Homo sapiens: one gene and its partner. The protein of the gene in region 1 interacts with the protein of each later gene in a pairwise test. Each region holds a gene or a part of one and is shown on either strand. Other genes may lie near its edges.

Region 1 (3,654 bases):
CAGAATTGTTAATATACATTGTCAATCTTGCCTCAAAGAATTATACATCTTCCTTTTGGGGCACTGGGTCAGTTGGGTTATCTGGACTTTATTAAAATGGAGCCCTCATTTACTCAATGGTTTCTCTTAACCACTGACAGAGTATGAAGACCACATTAAAATTAATGGGTCATGTGAAGAGTAATGATTGGGGTGGGGGGTGTTTCTCTTATTAGGTATAAAAAGTAGATGATATACAAATAGCTACACTTACAAGCTAGCACCTCAGATGTTATAAGTCTGAGTGAGGTATCTGCATTTCAAAGGTAAACTGTATGTTGAATCACCATTGCCCTATCCGTACACAATTTAAGTTAATAGCAAAGACACAGGAAAAATTAGGCAAGAGGGGAAATAACTTAGATAGCCACCAAGAATTCAGTGTATGTATGCACAAAATCCAGTGTTTGATATCCTGCCTGGGATTCAACGTACTTGGCCTTCCTCTCTTCCTCCTCCCTGGCAGTCCAGGGACCTCAACTTTAGCTATTTTCCCAGATCTAGCTCATAGAGATAACCAGAAGAGAGACTATAACTAGGATGACTTACATTATTCTTATAGATACTGATCTGCAACAGTCTGTCCCCATGTCACCACTCTAGGATGCAAATATTAAACAGAGTGGGAAACAAATAGTAGTGTTTACAAGCATTGAGGGTGGGGTAGGGTCTGATTTTCCTGCTGGAAACAAATGATATTTATGTCCACCTAATTGTTTCAAACTCAAAATGATATGTATTTTCATTCAAGATGGAAAGGAAGTAATGGCTCCCAAGACAGAAGAGCAAATATTTTTATCTTTGAAAGCAAAAGCCTTAGTAACAAAAAAGATCCACAATTTTTAAGCTTGAAAAAGCCTTTCAAAAGATCTAATACAGAATTTCCAAAAACCAGTACGACTTGCAAGACATTCTGTGGAAAAAAGTTTTGTGACCAAACACATTTGGGAACTGTCACAGGTAATGCTATTCTCCTTCCAGATTTCCACAGCACTGGGCATATTAGAAGCTCTGAGAAGTTTTGCCATAAAGATACACTCTAACCATGTGTTTCCTTTAAAGGAGGAAACTAGAAAGGAGGTGACACATTGAGGTCACACAGAGTACCACATCTGTCAAAGGAAAGATCAACAGGCAATGTCAAATTTTAAGGAGAATGTGACTCAAGGAAGTTCTTGAAGGACAATATATATAAAAATGTAATTATTCAACCGTAAGCAGAATTATGTTCAGTAAGCCCCTTAGCCAATGTCTACTACAAAATGGAATGAACTATTATCTTAATAATTCTTTAAACACGTTTTTTAAATTGTTAACCCCAAAGTGACAAAACCTGAGACCATTTCCCTTCATTCACAGACGAAATCAGAAGCACACAAGACATACTTTTCAGAAGTCAGTGATGACAGGTTGTCCACCTGGCCTCCAGCCAAGATGATATTCATATCACTGAAAGTGCTGACTACTTGCTGCAGATAATTACTGGCTCCCACCTTACAGCAATTATAACCAAAGACAAGGACCACACGAAGTTCAGGGTTATCTAAAAGACCTGCAGAGAAATGAAGAGCAACAGTTAAAGACAGCCTTAAAACAGAAATTATTTTATACATGCTGCAAAATGAAATGTTACTGACTTGCACTCCACCTTAAGGGCAATTTAGTGGCTTAAGCTATCAAATTTTCCATTTTTTATTTTTTATCTTATTTTATATCCTCTTCGATCTCTGTATCAAGTTTTCCATTTTTTACAAACATTATGCAAAATCTTAATTATTTTTTCTATTAAAAAAACTAAATGGCTATTTGTGTTAATAAATAATGCAATCAACACAAATAATGAAGCAGCTATGTACTGAGCAGCAACTCTTGGTAGACCAAGGTGCAAGCTGGCTCTCAGTAGGGAACAAAAAAAAAAAAACACTGGTTTACACAGAGCTGTGCTAGCAGCAGTGAGAATTTACAGATTTTTTATTTTTTAAAGGAGAGAAAAGGCGCTAACCACTTATAGTGTGGTGAACAGTGCCCCCTGCCCATGCCAAAGGTATATCCACATCAAACCTCTGGAACCTATGCATGTAAGCTTATTTGGAAAAAGGATCTTTAAAAAAAATTTTTTTTTTTTTGGTAGAGATGGGGTCTCGCTATGTTAGTAAGGATCTTAAGATTAAATCATCTGGTCTATCCACGTGGGCTCTAAATCCAATGACAGTGTCCTCATAATGAAAGATGTACAAAGGAGAGACAGAGAAGAAAAGGCAGTGTGACCACAGAAGCAGAAACTGGAGCGGTAGGAAGAGAAAAAGAACAGACTCTCCCCTACAGCCTCCCAAGGTAGCACTACCCCTACTGCCATCTCAATTTCAGACTTCTGGCCTCCTGAACTGTGCAGAATAAATTTCTCGTTTTATGTCACCAAATTTGGGGTACTTTGTTACAGCAGCCTAAGAAACTACTACATCACTGAAATACAGGCTTTATTCACCTCCTCCACGGAAGCAGGTGAGAGTAAAGGCGAATTAGCCTTTGAAAGTTCCTTGCAAAGCAGGAAAATGTTCAATTCTGTGACACAGGAACTAAAAGCTGCTACCGCTAGGAGGTGGCAGAGTGTAACAGAGACAGCCTACTTGCTCTGCCCACAGCTCCCAGGTTTCACTGGAGCCTCTGGCAGCTTGTTTATAGACTATCAATTTGATTTTTTTTTTAAGTTCAGGGATACATGTTCAGGTTTGTTCCACAGGCAAACGTGTGTCATGGGGGTTTGTTGTGCAGATTATTTCATCACCCAGGTAATAAGCCCATTCTCCATTAGTTATTTTTCCTGATCCTCTCCTTCCTCACACCCTCCACCCTCTGGTAGGCCCCAGTGTCTGTTGTGCCCCTCTTTGCGTCGATGTATTCTCATCATTTAGCTCCCACTTATAAATGAGAACATGCAGTATTTGGTTTTCTGTTTCTGTGTTAGTTTGCTAATGATAATGGCCTCCAGCTCCATCCATGTCCCTGCAAAGGACGTGATCTCATTCTTTTTTATGGCTGCATATGTACTACATTTTCTTTATCCAGTTTATCACTGATGGGCATTCAGGTTGATTCCATGTCTTTGCTACTGTGAATAGTGCTGCAATGAACATACATGTGCATGTGTCTTTATAACAGAATAATTTATATTCCTTTGAATATATACCCAGTAATAGGACTGCTGGGTCAAATGGTATTTCTGTCTTTAGGTCTTTGAGGAATCACCACACTATCTTCCACAATGGCTGAACTAATTTACACTCCCACCGACAGTGTATAAGTGTTCCTTTTTCTCCACAAACTTGCCAGCATCTGTTATTTTTTGACTTTTTAATAGCCATTCTGCCTAGTATGGGATACGATCTCATTGTGGTTTTGATTTGCATTTCTCTAATGATCAGTGATGTGGAGCTTTTTTTCCTATGATTGTTGGCCGCATGTATGTCTTCTGCCAGCATTACCAAACGGGTGCTTTGGGGACAGGAAAATGAATCTAATACCTAACACACTTGTGTTTCCATTTGATTTGACCACATGACTTCCACCTTGACAAACCTAAGGTGGTTACCAGAAAGGAGAGTTACTTAAGGAAAC
Region 2 (3,654 bases), on another chromosome or scaffold:
TCAGTACAACACGGAAGATGCCTACACTGTGCAGCAGCTGACCGACAGCACTCAAATTAAAATGGTATTCTCATCTCAGGCTCGTTGTTCTATCAGCTTGCCGTTTCCTTGTTCTCGTGGATATTGTTAGGAAAGATAAGGAAGAGGATATGGGCATCTTTAATTTGAAATAGATGTTTGCCTCATGAATATGAATATGGCCTTATTCCAGGATTTTAATACGCACTACAAAAAGCTTCATGTTAAAACTCATTGTTGAGCCAGGCATGGTGGCACATGCCTGTAGTCCCAGCTTCTTGGGAGGCTGGGGCGGGAGGATCACTTGAGCCTGGGAGGTCGAGGCTGCAGTGAGCTATGATCGTGCCACTGTACTCCAGCGTGGGTGACAGAGACCCTGTCTCTTAAAAATAAAACTACGTGTAACACACACACACATACTCCTCATCCATGCTTTTCTCTCATTCATTTAACCAGTTAGGCTTTTCTTACTAAGCTTAAATTTCCACTTTAGTATTATTTTTCCTGCTAGCCATATTTTTTATTGAGATATATTTTAGATAATAAAATTTGACATAACATAAAAGTCATTTTAAAGTGTACAAAGTGGTTTTTAGTATATTCACAAGCTTATAGAACTACCACCATTATCCAATTCCAGAGTGTTTTATCACCCCAAAAAGAAACCTGCACCCATTAGCAGTAACTGCCCGCTAGCTCCCAGCCCCTGACAACCATTAATTTGCTATCAATTTGCCTACTCCAGACATTTCATATAAATGGAATCATATAACACATGACTTTCTGTGCCTGCCTTCTTTCCCTCAGTGTATACTGTTTGCAAGGTTTGCCCATGTTCTAGCATGTGTTGGTACTTCATTTCTTTTTGTGGTCGAATAATCCAATGTATAGATGGACCACATTTTATTTGTTCATCAGTTGATGTACATTTAAGTTGTTTCCAATTATGAACAATGCTGCTGTGAATACATGTTTTCAATTTTCCTGGGTATATACCTAGGTATAGAATTGCTGAGTCATGTAATAGCTGAATTTTTTGAGGCACTGCCAGACTGTTCCATAGTGGCTGTGCCATTTCATATTCTCACCAACAGTGTATGAAACTTTCAGTTTCTCCATATCCTCACCAACATTTGTTATTTTCATTTTTAAAAAAAATTATAGCCATCCCAGTGGATGTGAAGTAGTATCTTGCAGTTTTTGACTTGCATTTCTCTAACAACTAATGATGTGTAGAATCTTTTTTGTGTTTATTGCCATTTGTATATCTTCTTTGGAGAAATGTTTGATCAAATTCTTTGCCCATTTTTCAGTTGGGTTATTTGTCTTTTTGTTGTTGAGTCGTAAGAATTCTTTTAATATTCTGTATACTAGATCCTTATCAAATATGTAATTTACAAATGTTTTTTCCCATTCTGTGGGTTGTCTTCTTACTTTCTTATATACACACATTTTTAATTTTGATGAAGCCTATTTTATCTATTTTTTCTTTATATTGTTTGTGGTTTTGGTGTCATTTTTAAGGAATCATTGCCTAGTCTGAGGCCAAGGACTATTCTCTCCCTATTGTTTGGTGCTGGCAAACTTGTCAAAAGTCAGTTGGCCATAGGTATATATGGGTTTATTTCTGGATTCTCAATTATTTTCCAGTGATCTGTATATCTTTACTATGCCAGTATCACACTGTCTGGATTACTGTTGTTTTGCAGTAAATCTTGAAATCGAGACCCCTAACTTCGTTTTATTTTCCCCCAAGATTATATTGGCTATTCTGGATCCCTTATGTTACCTTATGAATTTCAAGATCAGCTTGTCCATTTCTACAAAAAGTGCAGTTGAGATTTTGATAAGGATTGCACTGAATCTATAGATTGCTTTGGGGAGTATTGCCATCTCAGCAGTATTTTAAGTCTCCCACTCCATGAACATGGGATGTCTTTTCATCTATTTAGGTTGTCTTTTCTTTCAACTGTGTCTCATGGTTTTCAGTGTATGCATCTTCTACTACTTTCAATTTATTCCTAGTTTATTCTTTTTGATGCTATTATAAATGGAATTGGTTTTTAGTTTTTTAATTGAGACGGAGTCTTGCTCTGTCTCCTAGGCTGGAGTGCAGTGGTGCAATCTTGGCTCACTGCAACCTCCGCCTCCTGGGTTCCAGCAATTCTCCCACCTCAGCCTCCCAAGTAGCTGGGATTACAGGCGTGCGCCACCATGCCTGGCTAATTTTTTGTATTTTTAGTACAGACAGGGTTTCACCATGTTGACCAGGCTGGTCTTGAACTCCTGACCTCAAGTGATCTGCCTGCCTCGGCCTCCCAAAGTGCTGGGATTATAGGCGTGAGCCACCGTGCCTGGCAGAGTTGTTTTCTTAATTTCACTTTTTTCTGTTTTTTTGAGACAGGGTCTCTTGCTCAGGCTGGAGTGCAATGGTGCAGTCATAGCTCACTGCGGTATCAAATGATCCTCTCTCCTCAGCCTCCTGAGTAGCTGGCACTACAGGCGCTTGCCACCATGCTCAGCTAATTTTTGTATTTTTTGTAGAGATGGTGTTTCACTGTGTTGCCCAGATTGGTCTTGAACTCCTGGGCTCAAGTGACACTTTCACCTTGGCCTCCCAAAGTGCTGGGATTACACAGGCATGAGCCACCATGCCAGCCTGTTCCACTTTCTGATTGCTCGTTGCTAATGTATAGAAGTACAACTAAGTACCGCAGGGTGTGGTGGCTCACGCCTGTAATCCCAGCACTTTGGGAGCCCGAGGCGGGCGGATCACGAGGTCAGGAGATCGAGACCATCCTGGCTAACATGGTGAAACCCAGTCTCTACTAAAAATACAAAAACAAAATTAGCCGGGCGTGGTGGCAGGTGCCTGTAGTCCCAGCTACTCGGGAGGCTGAGGCGAGAGAATGGTGTGAACCCAGGAGGCGCAGCTTGCAGTGAGCCCTGATTGCGCCACTGCACTCCAGCCTGGGCGACAGAGCAAGACTCTGTCTCAAAAAAAAAAAAAAAAAAAGGTACAACTAATTATTGTATTTTGATTCTGTTTCCTATAACATTGCTAAATGTTTATTAGCTCTAATTTATTAGCTCAAATAGTTTTTGGGGGGATTCCTTAGAGTTTTTTGATATACTGTCATATCATCTATAAATACAGGCAGTTTTGCTTCTTCCTTTTCTTATTTGGCTGCCTTTTATTTCTTTTTTGTTTGTCTTTGTTTTTGCCTGATTCTTCTGGCTAGAATTTGTGGCAAGAACAAGCATCCTTGTCTTGTTACTGCCCTTATTGGGAAAGCTTCCAGTCTTTTACTGTTTAACTGTGATGTTAAAGAGTGATGGTGTTAGCTGTGAGCTTTTACTAGATGTCCTTTATCAGACTAAAGAGGTTCCCTTTTATTCTTAGTTTATTGAATTTTGTATCATGCAAGAGTGTTGTATTTTGTCAAAATGCTTTTTCTACTCTGTCAAAATAACTGCTTTTTTGTCTGTTAATATGGTGTATTGCACTGATGTTGAACCACCCTGGTGTTCTTAGGGTGAGTCCCACTTGGTCATGGTATATAATCCTTTTTCTATGTTGTTGGGTTTAGCTTGCCGGTATTTTCTCGAGTTTTGCATTTATATTCATAAGGGATA

Evidence for each region. The genes of interacting proteins can lie anywhere in the genome.
Region 2: the proteins of FBXO22 (region 1) and CUL1 interact in binary tests that used the Homo sapiens proteins (3 or more experiments, as listed by UniProt).

What each region holds. Positions count from the first base shown.
Region 1 is NC_000015.10:75,927,821-75,931,474, reverse strand, and holds part of FBXO22 (F-box only protein 22), read right to left. Parts: intron 1,592-3,654; coding exon 1,426-1,591; coding exon of another isoform or gene 1,389-1,425; exon of another isoform or gene 608-1,388; intron 1-607. UniProt on the Homo sapiens protein: Substrate-recognition component of the SCF (SKP1-CUL1-F-box protein)-type E3 ubiquitin ligase complex that is implicated in the control of various cellular processes such as cell cycle control, transcriptional regulation, DNA damage repair, and apoptosis.
Region 2 is NC_000007.14:148,792,755-148,796,408, forward strand, and holds part of CUL1 (cullin-1), read left to right. Parts: coding exon 1-64; intron 65-3,654. UniProt on the Homo sapiens protein: Core component of multiple cullin-RING-based SCF (SKP1-CUL1-F-box protein) E3 ubiquitin-protein ligase complexes, which mediate the ubiquitination of proteins involved in cell cycle progression, signal transduction and transcription.